Linked DNA regions of Homo sapiens: region 2 is linked to region 1. Evidence: fine-mapped expression QTL. Tissue or cell type: thyroid. Region 1 holds a variant in brackets; the other region holds the start of a gene. All regions are shown on one strand. Distances are from middle to middle.

Evidence for each region. PIP is the estimated chance that this variant, and not a neighbour inherited with it, causes the effect.
Region 2: it holds the start of ZNF232, and the variant in region 1 is fine-mapped to the expression of ZNF232 in thyroid (GTEx, PIP above 0.99). The same link has a PIP of 0.9 or more in aorta, coronary artery, esophagus muscle, left ventricle, lung and prostate.

Annotation. Positions count from the first base shown.
Region 1 is chr17:5,652,530-5,660,788 of GRCh38, forward strand. No RefSeq gene overlaps it. Among named protein-coding and RNA genes, the nearest start is that of NLRP1, 72 kb to the left of the region's middle. The variant C/T (reference allele first, on the strand shown) is at 4,823.
Region 2 is chr17:5,107,517-5,115,516 of GRCh38, forward strand. It overlaps ZNF232 (zinc finger protein 232), which reads right to left and starts at 4,362. Exons shown (of 4, transcript NM_014519.6): 1 at 4,284-4,362; 2 at 1,878-2,352; 3 at 1,410-1,536. The coding sequence starts at 4,306. ZNF232-AS1 (ZNF232 antisense RNA 1) reads left to right here and starts at 4,419. Exons shown (of 3, transcript NR_135658.1): 1 at 4,419-4,585; 2 at 5,870-5,936; 3 at 6,642-6,866. RefSeq lists an enhancer at 4,673-4,722.

The DNA of each region.
Region 1 (8,259 bases):
TAGAGAGCAAGATCCTAGAGGCAAAAACTTACATCCAATGCTTTGTTGAATGGTGTAATTCCAGGGAAGGAAGAATGAGGCAACATAAAAGCAAGGGAAGGAGAAAGGAGAGAGAGCACATACAAGAGGATGTGTTGAGCTTGTGAAACGCTTCCAGAAAGGCTGTATGAGACTCCTGCTCTTCAGAACAGTATATGGGGAGGGAGGAAGGGCAAGGTAGGTGTTTACTGTACCTTTCCCATAATCTCTTTCTCACTGATGGATCAACCATGGATCTCTGTCTCCCCGTGGATCAAAACCATGGGTATTAATCCCCAAACACCATGAGGGGGCAACTCTAGGCAGCCTCTGGGAAGCTGGAGCCTCCAAGGCCCAGACTGGCTCTTGTGCTGATGTGGCCAGCTCTCTTCATTCACTGGTGCTGTGAGTGGGAGCTTGGTTGGTAGTGGCAGCAGCAGCCACTGGGACTTTCCATAGGAGTAGGATGAGATGTCACTGGGTCTGCCCTGGCTAGGACATGAGACACATAGCAGAGACCCAGGTTGGATAGGTAGGGCTGAGTGGATCTTCTACTACGTCACCTTCCTCACCAAACTCATCCTCGTAAACACAGGTGAATGCATTGATGTCATTATGTGCCAAAGGTTACCACTGCCCTTTTACCCCAGCCACCGGTGCCTACTACTCAAGTGGTGTGGTCAACCCAACTCCACAGTCCCTTCTTGAGCTCCAGCTTTCTAGGGTCACACTTGACAGTGGTTGTCTGCATTTCCTAGAGAACAGAACCTGAGACAAAAGTTTCCTTGCTGATGGTTTATTTAGGGGAAGATGGTGCAAGTCCCAGGAATCATGTCTGAGAAAAAGGGAAAGTGAAGCAGAAAAGGAGTCAAAGCAAATACAAGGATGTGTGCTACTGGGCTGACCACAGCATTGCAGTAAACACAGGGGGTTGCTCAGGACCCTGGGAGGTTTCTAGAAAAGCACAGGGAGCCACCCAGGCAGCTTCCAAGAAAGCCAGGGCTCTAGTCAGGCCAGTGAGTAGGGAAACGGCCTCTCCATCATGTTAGCACAGTACACAGGAGCCCATTGGGTTTTAGAGACAGTGGTGGCCATCAAAATTTTTGACTATGGCAGGGAGAATAATGTCCCTCCCAAGATGTCCACAACCTAATCCCCAGAACCTCTGAATCTGTTAGCTTACACAGCAAAGGGGAATTAAGGTTGCAAGTGGAATTAAGGTTGCTAATCAGATGACTTAAGAAGAAGAAATTATTCTGGATTGTTCTTGGTGAAACCAATGCAATCCCAAGGGCCCTTAAAAACAGAAAGGGGAGGTAGAAGAGAAGGTTGGAGCGATGGGTTGTGAGAAAGACTCTACCAGCCTCTGCTGGCTTTGTAGGTAGTGGAAGGGGCCGTGAGCCAGGGAATGCAGGTACCCTTTAGAAGCTAGAAGAGGCAAAGACATGGATTCTCCCCTGCAGCCTCCAGGAGGAACATAGTCCTGTCCATAGTCCTGTCCTTGATTTTAGCCCAGTGAGACTTATGTCAAATTTCTGACCTACAGAACCATAAGCTAATAAGTTTGTGTAGTTTTAAGCCACTTAATCTGTGATAACTTGTTGCAGCAGCTATGGAAAATGAACAGAGTGACCCCAGGAGCAGATGATTGTCCCTGGAGTCTGCAAGGTTACTGGAAGGGGTGGCGTGTGGTCAGAATCTGATTGGAGGCCTCTAAAGGACTTATCAGATTTGGCATCCTGGAGGGTGAGTTCCCCCCGAGGTGAAGGTCCTCGTCACCGTGACAGCTCCCCTCCACGTCAGTGTCCAGAGCACTGCAGGGTAGCTTCCACCTCACTGGGCAGCAGTGTTCCATTCTCTGTCCTTTGTCCATCTCCAGACTCTCTCATGCTCAAGTACGTTGCTCTTCCATTGTGTTAAAAGCATTAGGAACACCCTCTGTGTGTTAGAAAGGCAGCTTTCTAAACTGCCTTTCTTGAAATATTTATTGAGCGCTTACTTTGGGAAAGAAGGATGCCTGCGAATACAGGGATGAACAAGACAGGTTCTGAGTCCATTTTCCTAATGGGGGGACAGGACATTAAATCTTATGAGCATATGGCTGGGCATGGTAGCTCATGCCTGTAATCCCAGCACTTTGGGAGGCTGAGGTGGGTGGATCACCTGAGGTCAGGAGTTCGAGATTAGACTGGCCAACATGGTGAAACCTCCTCTCTACTAAAAATACAAAAATTAGCCAGGTGTGGTGGTGCATGCCTGTAATCCCAGCTTCTCGGGAGGCTGAGGGAGGAGAATCGCTTGAACTCGGGAGGCAGAGGTTGCAGTGAGCCGAGACCAGGCCATTGCACTCCAGCCTGGGCGACAGAGTGAGACTCCATCTCAAAAGAAAAAAAAATCTTATGAGCTCACCAATAAGTATAAATTCACAAATGATGGTAGCTGTTATTATGAAAAAGCTCTAGAAGCTATTCAGATTCACAGGAGGACATGCATGAGATCAGGGACTCAGGGCAGGCCTCTCTGAGAGGTGACATTTAAGCTCATGCTTAAATGATGAGAAGCTTGGGCCACACAGAACTTGGTGGTCAGAACAGGCAGGTGCATTTCCTTGAACCCGGATGTGTTTCCTACCAACCAGGCAAGGCTTTTGGTTACATTACTTCAGGTAGGAGCTTTCTCCTGCCCAATTCAGCAATATCTACAAGATGCCCCCGCTGTCTTGTGTTAGAATATCAGGTGAAATGTATCTGAGCACATGGGATTCCTTCTAACAGTTGTTCAATGAAGAGCGTTGGCTCTGGGATGATGGACACAGGGAATCTCCCCCATCCTCAGCACGTCTCAGGAGTCTCTGCTGAAATTTGGGTCTTGTTTGGTCGAAAGAGAAAACCGTGCCTGGAGTAGCTGTGGAATAAGGGAGAACCGTCTTGGCCCTGGAGGCAGAGAGGCCTGGGGCTGGATCTCAGCTCCACCATGGACTAACCTCACAGCTTGGGCAAACGGCCTTCCTCTTTGAATGAGCTTCCCAAGCTGTGAAATGGAGGTCACAATGCCTGCCTCAGGGAGAGGTTGTGCAGGTTCAGCGAGGTGATAGGTCCTCCACTTCTGTTATATCCAAGACATTCAAACAATTATAATAACACACTATGATGTAACACTATTCAAATAATTATTAACCCCATGCAAGTTCAATTTTTATGATGTGGCAAGATGCATTGCCCCCTCCATTATAATGAGTAGGGGTGTGTGTTTGTGTGTGTGTGAGAGAGAGAGAGAGAGAGAGAGAGAGAGAGAGAAAGAGAGAGAGAGAGATTTGAAACAAACACGCCAGTCAGAGTTGGTGCCATGCCCTCAGAGAGGGTGTCATTCACAGTGGGAATGCAGAGTCAAATGTTTCTTAGCACAACAATGTGCTGGAATAGTTTCTCTTAAAGGACAAGGTCAATGTTGTCTTAACAGGAGGAATAACCTTTTCTCATGTGGGAAACATTATGACTTGCTCTGATGTGGTGTCTTTGGGCCTTACGTAAACTCTGAATGAGGATTCCAGGCCACGCTTTCTCCTCGCTCCTGGGAGCAGAGCCCGCACCCTCCTCTTTGGTTGGTTATTTTATTTTAAAATAACTGTTTCAGTTTAGAATAGTTTTAGATGTATAGGAAAGTTGCAAGAATATTACAGAGAGTTCCCGTATACCCCACACCCAGTTTCTCCCATACACACCTTCTACTTTGTGACTCAGCAAGGATGGAGTTGGGGAGAGCCTGTGCTGGCACCCAGCGGGAGCATCTTAACAAAACAGAAGGACCCAATGGGTCACCAAAGGAAGGGATAGAAGCTGGAAAGAAGCAAGGGTGGAAGAGAAGGTGTAGAGAAGACCCCAACCGCGGGTGCAGGAGGCAGCGACAGTTACTGAATTTCCCAAATTTTTAGCAAACTTCCCTCCCTCAGCCTGTACCACGAGCAATCAAAAACACACTTGGAACAGAACAGAGGGACTTTGCCACACCTGGAGTATATTTCGTATTATTTCCAGAGCAGGTGGTGTAGGAAATACCTATTGCCAAATAAGAAATGCTACAGACAGATCAAGTCAAAGTGCATAAGGAAAAGAACCGTTTTAAATGCTGAAATCTCAGAGGTAGTTAATACTTCTCAGAGGAAGAAAAGTGAGTTATTTGTAACTCACTTTTCACGGTCCTGATTTTGAGGTGTGTGTCTGCCATAAAAACATGCTAGTCTTTAGGGGGGCAAGCTCTGCTGTCTTGAGCTCTTTCTTCTTAGACTCTCAGAACAAATATGTAGATGTAATGTTTTTACTTAAGATTACACATATTGGCCAGGCGTGGTGGCTCATGCCTGTAATCCCAGCACTTTGGGAGGCCAAGGCGGACGGATCATGAGGTCAGGAGATCGAGGCCATCCTGGCTAACAAGGTGAAACCCCGTTTCTACTAAAAATACAAAAAAATTAGCCAGGCGTGGTGGCGGGCACCTGTAGTCCCAGCTACTCAGGAGGCTGAGGCAGGAGAATGGTGTGAACCCAGGAGGTGGAGCTTGCAGTGAGCCAAGATCGTGCCACTGCACTCCAGCCTGGGTGACAGAGCAACACTCCGTCTCAACAACAACAACAAAAAAAGATTGCACATATTTTCCATGTATTATTGTATGGACATGGCTTTAGGGTTCCTCTCCCAAACCATAGCAGACTCTGGAGAGAGGGTGGGGAGATCTCAAATTTTTCTGGGGCTGGATGATTGGGCACGTGGGTTGGTGGCTTTGCAGAGGGAACCTGTTGCTTCAGTGA[C/T]GTGGGGCAGATGGCTCAGCGGTGGATGGCGGAGCAAGGTGATTGCTGGCTGCCATCTCTTGAATGATCCTGGCATGAGCTCCTCCTGTTCCTCCTGGGATTGCTATGGAAACCCAGACTGAGTTGTTGTCTCTGTGTCGGGGCTTTCCTGGGTGTTTTTCCTCCTGGCCTCAACGCTTACAAATCATTCTTTCCTGTGTGCAGATCAGGTGATTCTCCCAGGCCCTGTCTGGGCAGGGTGACTGACAAGTCAATTTGGTCAGACAATTGCTTGGGCTGATTTTTCCATTGCACTGAGCTCCTTGTTTTGGCTCCTGGTAAACTGGGTTTGATCTGGGGCTGGGAGGTGGAGGTTGGGGATCAGGAAGGGAGGGAGGGGATGCCATGTGAGCCTTCTCTTTCTCAGGGGAGCCTGAGAGGGAACGGTGAGAATCCACAGTCCCCAGGTCTGAAGCAGGGAGCTGGGCTGTGTCGAGATTGGGGATGGAGGTATCATTCCCACTTTAAAGATGAAGACATTGAGTTCAGGGAGTTGAGCTGCTTTACCCAAAGCCACATGACTTACGTGGCAGAACCTGGACTCTACCTGAGGGCCTGGTGGGGAGCACGGTGTCCTTTTCGCTGCTTAAGTGGAGGGAGAACTGAAAGAAGCCTTTGCCTGATGTTCTGTGTCTCCTTTTTGTGATGGGGAAGGATTTTGGCTACTGTTTTAGGTCTGTGGTTCATGTTGCCCAAAGCACTGACGACAAATCTGCACATGACCTGACCTTGGGCTTTGGGCAACCCTCTAGATGCCAGTTCCCGAGAAAGACCCTCCACACTTTCAGCTTGCCCATCTGACTGATGGGAAGCTTACCCCTAGAAAGGCATGGCTGAAGCAGAGAACAGAAAGTGTGATCCTTGAGGCCAGAGACTTGGATGTTTATTTCGCTTCTGGTACTTACTAGCTTTGTGACCTTGTGCAAGTCACCTGCCCTCTCTGAGCTTTAGCTCCCTGGCTGAGCAATGCACAAGCCACCTGCCCTCTCTGAGCTTTAGCTTCCTGGCTGAGCAATGCAGTGGTTAATTATTGCTTGGCCTACCTATCAGGGTTGCTGTGAGGATTTAATAAGATTGGAAACATGGAAGCTTTTTGTAAGCCCATAAGGTCAAGCCAAGCCTCCATGCAAGAGCTATGTGGCTTTGATATTCTTGAGGCCCAGAAGGCAAGGCTGACTTCTGAAGCCATGGGTTTGGGGCTGGGGAGGGTGGAGCTGGCTCAGAGTTTGCAGCCATTCAGGGGCCATGTTGGTGATTTTTCCCTTAAGGAGGCCTCTGGTCTAGGGGGCCAGCCAGGGATTAGGGAAGAGGATACACGCTGGCCCATGCTTGTGCTTGGCAATGCCTTGCCACACCTGCCCTCTTTTGCCCCTCACATCTGCTGAATGGCAGGAAGATGGGCCATTGGGTGCAAAGAGGACACACTACAGTATGGCTATGAAGAGAGGGAGTGGCAGTGCATGCGAAGGCTGGAACTAAAAGGCAACTTGACTTCTTCCACTGGCGTGGCCAAGGTTGTCCATTTGCAGAGTCACGTCGTGCTTTACGTAAAAGCTGCTCAGGGAGCAGGGCTCAGAGATAATAAATGTAGCTGAGTTTGGAAACAGCCACATCCCCATTCACCACGGACAGAAGTGGGAGTCAGGGATGTAGCCCAGGGAGGCTTCACCCCTCACCCCTAGGCAGCCCTTTCTTCCTCGGCAGCAACACTGTGAGACCCTCCTCTTTTCACAGCAGGGGCCATCAGGCCCGGAAGTAGGCTTGGCCAGAGCCCAGGTGCAGGATCAAGCCTCACTTGAGGTTGGAGATGTGGAAGAGTTCTAGCCTCCCCTTCTGGGCTCAGCATCAAGTCCTACTGTCAGCCCGTCAGCCGCTGATGCTAGGGTTGAGTTATGCTAACCAGGCCTCGGCCTCCATCTAGAGCCCCAGCCTCTCCTCTCCTTCCCCCAACTGCTGGGATTCCCTTTTCTTTTCTTTTCTTTTCTTTTCGTTTCGTTTCTTTTCTCTTCTCTTCTCTTCTCTTCTCTTCTCTTCTCTTCTCTTCTCTTCTCTTCTCTTCTCTTCTCTTCTCTTCTTTTCTTTTTTGAGACAGTGTTTCGCTCTTGTCGCCCAGGCTGGAGTGCAGTGGCATGATCTCGGCTCACTGCAACCTCCACCTCCTGGGTTCAAGCGATTCTGCTGCCTCAGCCTCCGGAGCAGCTGGGATTACAGGTGGCTGTCAGCACATCCAGCTAATTTTTGTATTTTTAGTAGAGACAGGGTTTCACCATGTTGGCCAGGCTGGTCTTGAACTCCTGACCTCAGGTGATCCACCCGCCTCGGCCTCCCAAAGTGCTGGGATCACAGGCGTGAGCCACCGCGCCTGGCCAGGGTTCCCACTTCTAACAGCTGGGTCCATTCCCAGCTCTACTTCTTTCAGTCGCTATGAGGCCCTGTTTCCCTCCTCATCCTTTCTAACTGCCCCTTCTTAGGGGTAGTGGCCCATCCCTGGACCCCAGCCCAACATTGGTTCCTCTAAGCTCAGGATAGGAAGCAAAGTTCTGTGTGTTGAGGGCCTTTTTTTGCTTCTGGCCCTTTAAACCTAAGTAGATCAAAGAAGTGGATTCTAATTATTCCCATTGTACAGAGGAGGAAACTGAGGCTCAGAAAGGCTAAGAGACTTACCTAAGGTAACATGAATGGTAGAGACAAGATTCCAATCCACATCCACAGGGATTCAAAGGCTGTGCTGGGTCTTGGTGCAGTCACCCACCTGCCTGACGCCTGCAGGGGTCTGATTTCCAGGGGGATGTATTCCCCGTCCTGGGAACCTCCTGTTTGTGCTGTTTTGCTGAGAGCCAGACATTCAGTGCACGCCAGGGCCAGCCACATGACTCCACTTCAGACTGGTTCTTTGACAAAGTTTTAGATGTTCCTTATGGAAACTTAACCTTGAATCTGTTTCTCTGTCCTGCTCAATAGTTCTGTGTATTACTTAATGTGAAAGTAAGGCTCAGAGACAATAGCATTTAGAAAAAAAGAAAGAGCTTACTTGTAAAGAAGCTCAAGAGAGTCAGAATTCATAAAGACTCTGGTTTATCAAATAAAACACAACAGGAATTTAAGGAAAAAAGCACGACAAACCTTCCAAGGTCACTGAGTTTGTTTTGAGTCCATTCATGGCGGAAAATAGCAATTTTCTCACATATTATCACACCCATAAAAGTCGTGACAAATTTTTAGATATCAGCATTGCCCAAGTCAGAGATAAAAATTGTTTTGTTATGAAGTTAGCCAACTAAGGGAAAGGCTCAAGATTTCATTTGTTTTGGGGGGCCAGAACTAGATAGGATGATCTTCTTATTTTTGGTTTCTTTTTTCCTGGTTGGGAGACATGGTGTGTTCACTTATTCTTTATT
Region 2 (8,000 bases), 550 kb before region 1:
CTTTAAGATAACTCAAGGTCATTTGACTTTTTTTTTTTTTTTGACAGAGTCTTGCTCTGTTGCCCAGGCTGGAGTGTAGTGGCATGATCTTGGCTCACTGCAACCTCTGCTTCCCTGGTTCAAGTGATTCTCGTGCCTCAGCCTCCCCAGTAGCTGGGATTACAGGCGCGTATCACACCTGGCTAATTTTTGAATTTTTAGTAGAGACAGGGTTTCACCATGTTGGCCAGGCTGGTCTTGAACTCCTGACCCAAGTGATCCACCTGCCTTAGCCTCCCAAAGTGCTGGGATTATAGGCGTGAGCCACCGTGCCCAGCCAAGATCATTTGATTTTTTAAAAATTCATTTTTTCAGGTTAAATGCTGTGGTTAAAAAAATCTGAAATATGCTTGCTATATATAAAAAAAAAATCACACAATAGCTAGCTTCTTTTTGAGAGTAAAGTAATAAAATTGATAAATGAATAGAGGCTTACTAAACAGAAGTAAAGGAGACAAGAAAAAGTCTGGAAAAAAGTCAAGGAAGAAAGAAGAGCTAAGAAGTAGAAACATACTTTTGGGACAGAGTCTAATTAATCTCCATTTCTATTTTTTCCCATTTTGTAACTAAGAAGAATTTGATTTTTCAAATGCCTTGGTTTGGTGATAGTGATGGGGGGGCAGTTATGGTGTAAAAGCAAATATCAAGTAGACTCTTCTTGGTTAGCCGCATATTCACAATACGGTCACAAGGCTACAGAGGTCAACAAGGAGAGTTCACGCCCCTGAGGCTCTAAGTCTAGTGTTCGCCGCTGGGAGAGAGGAGAGGTTGTTTGCAGGTATGTATGCAGGCCAAGAAGGAAGTTTCTGTAGTGAATCTGAAGGGTAGAAGGTGAGGGCACACATAAGAGAGTTTCAGATAGGGCTGTTTACATGAGGAAGAGGTGGTAAAGGTGATGACAGGCTGTATCTCACATAGGAGTGCTTTATGGCTTAAAAAGTGTTTTGCGAGGCCTCAGCGAGTTTAAAAAAAAAAAAAGGATCTCAAGGCTGGCCTCTAGCTCAGGGCAGAGTTATTATAGACTAGGAGTTAAGTGCAGTGGAGATGATAAGGCATAAATGAATGAGCTATTTCCTGGTCCTGATTTAGGGCTCTCTAAAGTTAAGAGATGCTGGCCAGGCTTTATATCCAGATAAGACCCAAGTTGAGCTTAATCCTCAGAGCTATCTTATGAGGTAGTTTATTCTTACTCCTAATTTTATGAGTGATGAAACAGGCAAAGTCTCTCACCTAAGAGATAAGAATAGTAAGGCTGTGATGATACCAAACATTTAAGCACCTACTACTATTTACCCTTTACAGGTACTAGGTACTGTGCCCTTTATAGTCCCTCTTTCTCCTCTCCCTCCCCACAGAATCCTGCTCCTCACCACTCTTTGGGAAAGGCTGGGTCTCCTTAGGCTGGAGCTGGATGCTCAGTGCTTCCTGGGCTGCTCCCAGAGATTCCTTCTTCTCCCATGGCTCTTCCTGTGCAGGTCCATGTGCAGGGCCTGGGACCTGGAGGTGATCAGGCACCACTCAGTTTAAATTTTCTTCAAATTACTAGTGTGGTTTCTGTCCCCTGCCTGGACACTTGCAGATGTGACCCTCCTTGGACCAAAGCTTCCAAGGAGACTTTAGAGAGCCTCCTCAGAGTCAGCACAAGGGAAGAAGAGGAGCTAGAGTCTCTTTCTCATTCAGGGCTCGAGGGCAGAAAAGACAGACACAGAAACACATACTAACTGCTCTACCTGGCCCAAGAGAGGTTTGAACTTGGCACCTCCCCCTACAGCTGCCCCTCGGTCCAGCCTGAAGGTCATCAATCTGGCTCCCATAACAGACCAAATCCCCCTTCCCACCTGCGGCTCTGGTTCAAGTCCTTTCTCTAAATCCTCCAGCACAGTCACAGCCTCCTCTCCACTCTTAGGGTGATGTCCCCGCACCCAGGATTGGAGCTCCTCAGGCAGGATGGTCAAGAATTGTTCCAGCACCAGGAACTCCAGGATCTGCTCCTTCGTGTGTTTCTCTGGCCTCAGCCACTCACAGCAGAGTACTCGTAGTTGGCTCAAGGCCTCCCGGGGACCAGGAGTCTCCTGGTAGCGGAGATGCCTGAAGCGTTGGCGGAAGATCTCTTGACTGGTAGAGTGGTTCCCAGGTAGCCTGGTCTCATACTCACAAGACTGTTCCTCTTCCTTTGGTCCCATCATCATCATCTTCTCTTGTCCCTGTGTACCCTGAAGGGCCAGAGTTTCAGCTGCTGTTAGTGATACAGCCATCCTAGTCTGCACTAGCTCTGCAGAAGGCTCATACCAGCTGGAATCTTGCAAGGGCCCCCTGTAACATAAGAAGAAATCATTCCTCTTTTTTTTTTTTAAGACAGAGTCTTTCTCTGTTACCCAGGCTGGAGTGCAGTGACATGATCTCAGCTCACTGCAACCTCCACCCCCGGGGTTCTAGCGATTCTCCTACCTCAGCCTCCCAAGTAGCTGGGATTACAGGCGCCTGCCACCACATCCAGCTAATTTTTTTGTATTTTTAGTAGGGACGGGGTTTTGCCATATTGGCCAGGCTGGTCTTGAACTCCTGACCTCAGGTGACCCACCCACCTCGGCCTCCCAAAGTGGTAGGATTACAGGCATGAGCCACCGCGCCCGTCCTCCTCTTCTTTTTTCATTCATTAAACATATACATATACTCAACACTCCAAAGAGCCAAACCCTGTCCTATGCCCTGTAGTCCCGCTTTTTCTTCCACCCCTCCCCAGAATTCTGCTGCACTAAGTCAATGTTTTTGAGAAACTTGCACCGTGGTAGAAACGGGGATGTAAAGTGGTTTTCTATAATACAACTAATTAAATGCCATTGACAGGAAAAATGTATCAAGAAAAAAAAAGTTCTGGGGGCCTATGGGAAGAAATGACTATTGGAAGAAATAAGTTTGAAGCAAAACCCAAGTTTCCAGATGCAGAGCCCAGAGCCGAGCAGCTTTCAGTGCAAGGTGGAATGTGTTGGGGAGGCAGCCTCCTCTGAGATGGCTCCTCCCTGCTTTCAAAAATTTCTGAAGTAGTAGCTACAGCAAAAGAAAAATATAAGTCCCCTTTAAGGAGCTGGATCTCATTCAAATGCCAAAGCCCTATTAAGGGGCAGCTATGAACAAGTCTCGGGTACAGTGGCCTGCGTCAAGGAAATCTAACAGGTGTAAACCAAAAAAGCATCTGAGATAGGTCTCAACCAATTTAGGGGTTATTTTGCTAAGGTTGAGGATGCACCCAGGAAAAAGACACACAAGCCACAGTAGGATCCGTGGCTCGCACTTTTACCAAAGAGGGTTTTGAGGGCTTCAATTTAATGGGGAGAAAGCTGGCAGGAGGGGAAGGAGGAGAGAAGAGGGAGGGTATGTGGTGAGGTAAGTGGCCACATTCTTGTGAGGATTTGATTAGAGCTCACTGAATCCACATGTTGCACGTGAAAAGAGGAAGTCAATTATGAATTTGTCTCGTGCTCAGTAAATCTGCATTTTACACAAGATAAGGTAGACATACAGTAGAGGAAGAAGTCAAATATGCTTTGTCTCTGGGTGGGTGGAGGAACGATTTCTAGTCTTGTCCGGTGAAGCTCGGCTGTTCGTTTCCATTGCCAGGGTGAGGGAGGCCACCTGGGGGCATATGTTGCTTTCTATCTTGCAGCTATCGGTTTAGGAACAAAAGGAAAAGCAGTTTTTTTCCGTGACTCAGTTTCCAAGCTTAACTTTTCCCTTTGTCATAGTAAGTTTGGGGTCCTGAGATTTTATTTTCCTTTCACACAGGGAAGGAGGTGGAACGCATCAGAGGCCACGAAAGGAGCACAAAGGGGGACCGCTGGCCTAAGACAAAGGAGGCGCGAGGAAAAACGCGGAGCTCGCGTCTCCCAGGGTGATGCCCGGCGCCGCTGGCCCCAGCAAAACTTCTCTACCCCGGCCTCGGGCAGGTGCCCGCCCGGGGAGGGGGCTGTCGTCCAGGCCAGGTACAACTCCCCTTCCCACCCTTCACTCCCTACCCAAGGGTCTCGAGAAAAGAGAAGAGGAACATCAAGACCCCCCTCCACGGCACGTGACGCGACGCAACGCAGGTAGCGCAGCGCGGGCACCACGGGCAACCCAAACCCCTCTCCACACACAACCGCGGAGCTGCCTGCCAGGCCTGCTCACTGCAGAGCCGCCGCTGCCTGCGGGACGGGCAAAAGCCAAGCCGCCAGGTGGACCTCGGGGAAGCCGCCGCCAACACTCACCTCACAGGACCAGGAGGTTCCATCGGGGCGCTGCCGCGAATCGCGCCACTTACAGCCCTCACCCCAGGGGCAGGTTTGCGCCTGCGCAGGTCGCAGCCTCGGCCTCCAACTCCCAGAATCCTCCTCGCCGCCGGCTTCCGTTCGCGGACTTTGGCCCAGGCGCGTGGGCGCTGCCGAGAGGCTGGGAGCCCGGGAACCGGTTCCTGGACTTGAGCGGAGCGAGAAAGAGCGCGCCGCCTGCACGACTGGACTGGAGCGGCCGGGTGCCCTGGAGGCCCCTGGGAATTGCAGTCCTTGCGCAGGTGGAGAGTGAGCCCTTGTAAGCGGGTGACTTCATCAAGTTTGGGGGGTCTCTTGTGGAATTGTACCTGAAGGGCGGTGCTGGCGGACAGATGTCAGGGAAATTCTGGCCTTGTCCATGGCCTGTGGTAACACTTCTCCATGAGTTCTATTTTCCAATTACCTCTTCCCAGACCTGATGAGAGGGCCACAGCTAAGGAAGACGGTCCCTTCCACGAAAAAATATTCCCCAACCACTAGCCTGTACAATTCCTGGGGCGTAGGGGGAGGGGAGGAGAAAAAAGAATTCTAAGGTTAATTTTATTGCGATGGGGGAAATAGGGGTTGGTGTTTTTTTGTTGTTGTTATTTTTTATTTTATTTATTTATTTGAGACGGAGTCTTGCTCTGTCGCCCAGGCTGGAGTGCAGTGGCGCGATCTTGGCTCACTGCAAGCTCCGCCTCCCGGGTTCACGCCATTCTCCTGCCTCAGCCTCCTGAGTAGCTGGGACTAGAGGCGCCCGCCACCACGCCCGGCTAATTTTTTTTTTTTGGTAGGAGACACGGCGTTTCACCATATTAGCCAGGATGGTCTCGATCTCCTGACCTCGTGATCCGCCCGTCTCGGCCTCCCAAAGTGCTGGGTTTACAGGCGCCCGGCCGATTATTTTTTATTTTTTTTTTGAGACATGGTGGCCAACATGGTGAAACCCTGTCTCTATTAAAAATACAAAAAGGTTAGCTGGGCGTGGTGGCGGGCGCCTGTAGTCCCCACTACTCAGGAGGCAGGAGAATCGTTTGAACCCGGGAGGCAGAGGTTGCAATAAGCTGAGATTGTGCCACTGCACTCTAGCCTGGGCGACAGAGTGAGACTCCGTCTCAAAAAAAAAATTAATTAAAAATAAATTTATCTCACTATCAATTTTGCAGGATATTGATTGATCCAGTCTCTCAATACTTTTATAAAATAGCTTAATCCTAGTCTCTCCAAGAAAAATTGTTGTTCAACTGTGTAGTACCATAGTAACAGTTCTCAGATTCTCAGATTATTAAATTTGTTTCTCCAAGATATAGTATCCTTGAAAATGCGCATTGACACCCCCATGGCTGGGGGATATATTATCTTTTTTCCTTCAAAGTGCCATTGATAATTACTGCACGTAGGAGCTATGGATAAAAATAGTTATCATTTGTTGAATGTCTACTACGTGTCTAGAACTATGCCAGGAACTTAATGAAATTGTCTTATTTAGTCTTCACAGTTGCTCCACAAGGGATTGTATTAATGTCATTATCTTGATTTTACAGATGAGAAAACTCAAGACTCAGAAACAATAAAGGTTACAGAGATGAAATTGACAGAGCCTGAATTTCAGTATGTCAAACTTCAATGTGCCATTATACTTTTAAATCCTACAGAACAGATTGAATCACAACTTCTACTTTTACATGAGAGAAGACAATGGGTCCTATGACTTACTGTCAGTTTCCTTTTCCTGATTTAATTAGCTGCTTCTGTATCTAATTTTGCTAGGAATGGAGGAATAAGGCAAATTCCCTAAACTACATATTGACATTTATACTAATGTGAAAACCTCAAGTCCATTTGCAGACTTTTGGATTAGATTCTGTCCCAGAAAGACATCCACCCTAGAGTTCAGGATATCATACCCATTTTACTGTTCCCCTGGCACAATTCATAGTAAGGAAAAACAGACAAGGGGAAAGCTATTAGATTCTCGGTGCTGCTAAACAGGACACACAAGGACACCATTTTGTGATGATGATGGTGCTTTATGCAGCTTCCACCATTTACAAGATTTTCCTGTGGTGTGGAACCTCTCATGATAAAGCAAAGGAACTAGAAGCTTATTCCAGTCAAGATTTCTGATTTATCTTGTGGTAAGCATTTGGGAAGGACATATCTGCACATGACCTGAGACTAAGTACTATACACTGAATCAGATGAAAATTGCTCTTAGGAAGCTTACAATTTTCCAAATAGTTAGGACAAAAACAAACTCTCCTTCTCTCTTCCTATATGTACATACTGACATCTTTATCATTACTGTCTTCCTAGGGTTATGATTCTGTATGGTTTCTTTGGTGCTGCATTAGACCTGAGCTCTGATTGAAAATTCTTCCACGCTCGCTACATTCCAAAACTTTATCTCCAATATGAATTTCCAGATGCCTCACAAGGTCTGAGCTCCATCTGAAGGCTTTCCCATGCTTGTCACATTCATAGGGCTTTTCTCCACTATGAATTCTATGATGTCGAATAAAGTGTGAGCTCTGATTACAAGTCTTTGAACATTCATTGCATTCACAAAGTTTCTTTCCACTGTGAATTCTTTGATGCTGAATAAGTTGTGAGCTCCCCTTCAAATCTTTCCCACACCCAATGCATTTATAAGGCCTCTCTCTCACCTTGTATGGATTCTCTGATGTTCTGTAAGGACTGAGTTCTGGCCAGGCGCAGTGGCTCACGCCTGTAATCCCAGCACTTTGGGAAACCGAGGCGGGTGGATCAGCTGGGCTCAGGAGTTCGAGACCAGCCTGGCCAGCATGGTGAAAGCCCCTCTCTACTAAAAATACAAAAATTAGCCGGGTGTGGTGGTGGGTGCCTGTAATCCCAGCTAATTGGGAGGCTGGGGCTGGAGAATTACTTGAACCTGGGAGGTGGAGGTTGCAGTGAGCCGAGATCGGGCCACTGCACTCCAGCCTGGCAGCAGTGTGAGACTCCGTCCCAAAAAATAACAAACAAACAAAAAAGACACCAGAGGGCTTTGGGTCCCTCTCTCTCTGCCATGTGAGGACCCTGTGAGAAGGCAGCCAGGGAGCTCTCACCAGAACCTGACCATGTTGGGCCCTGGTCACAGCCTTGCAGCCTCCAAAACTGAGAAAATAAATTTCTGTTGTCTGGCATCCAGTCTATGGTATTTTGTTACGGCAGCCCGAGCTAAGACAGAGGAAAACTGGGGGCTGATGTGACGGCGGGGACTTTAGGTAGAAGGACCCCACGTCAAAAGTCAAAGCTAAAAATTCTGGAACGAGCCAGGAAGGCATCAGGACGTCTCATTTTATTTGCTAGAGGCATCTTTTGGGGGGTGGGGCGGTGGGTGGGTGGAAGGAGATGTGGCCAGTGAGCCTCTGACTTTTAATTGAGTTATTTCGAAACAAGGAACAGAGGGCCGGATGTGGTGGGTCGTGCCTGTAATTCCAGCACTTTGCGAGGCCGAGGCCAGTGGATCACCTGAGGTCAGGAGTTCAAGACCAGCCTGGCCAACATGGTGAAACCCTCTCTCTACTAAAAATACAAAATTAGCCTGGCGTGGTGGGGGGCGCCTGTAATCCCAGCTACTCGGGAGGCTGAGGCGGGACAACAGCTTTAACCCGGGAGGCGGAGGTTACAGTGAGCCGAGATGGCGCCACTGCA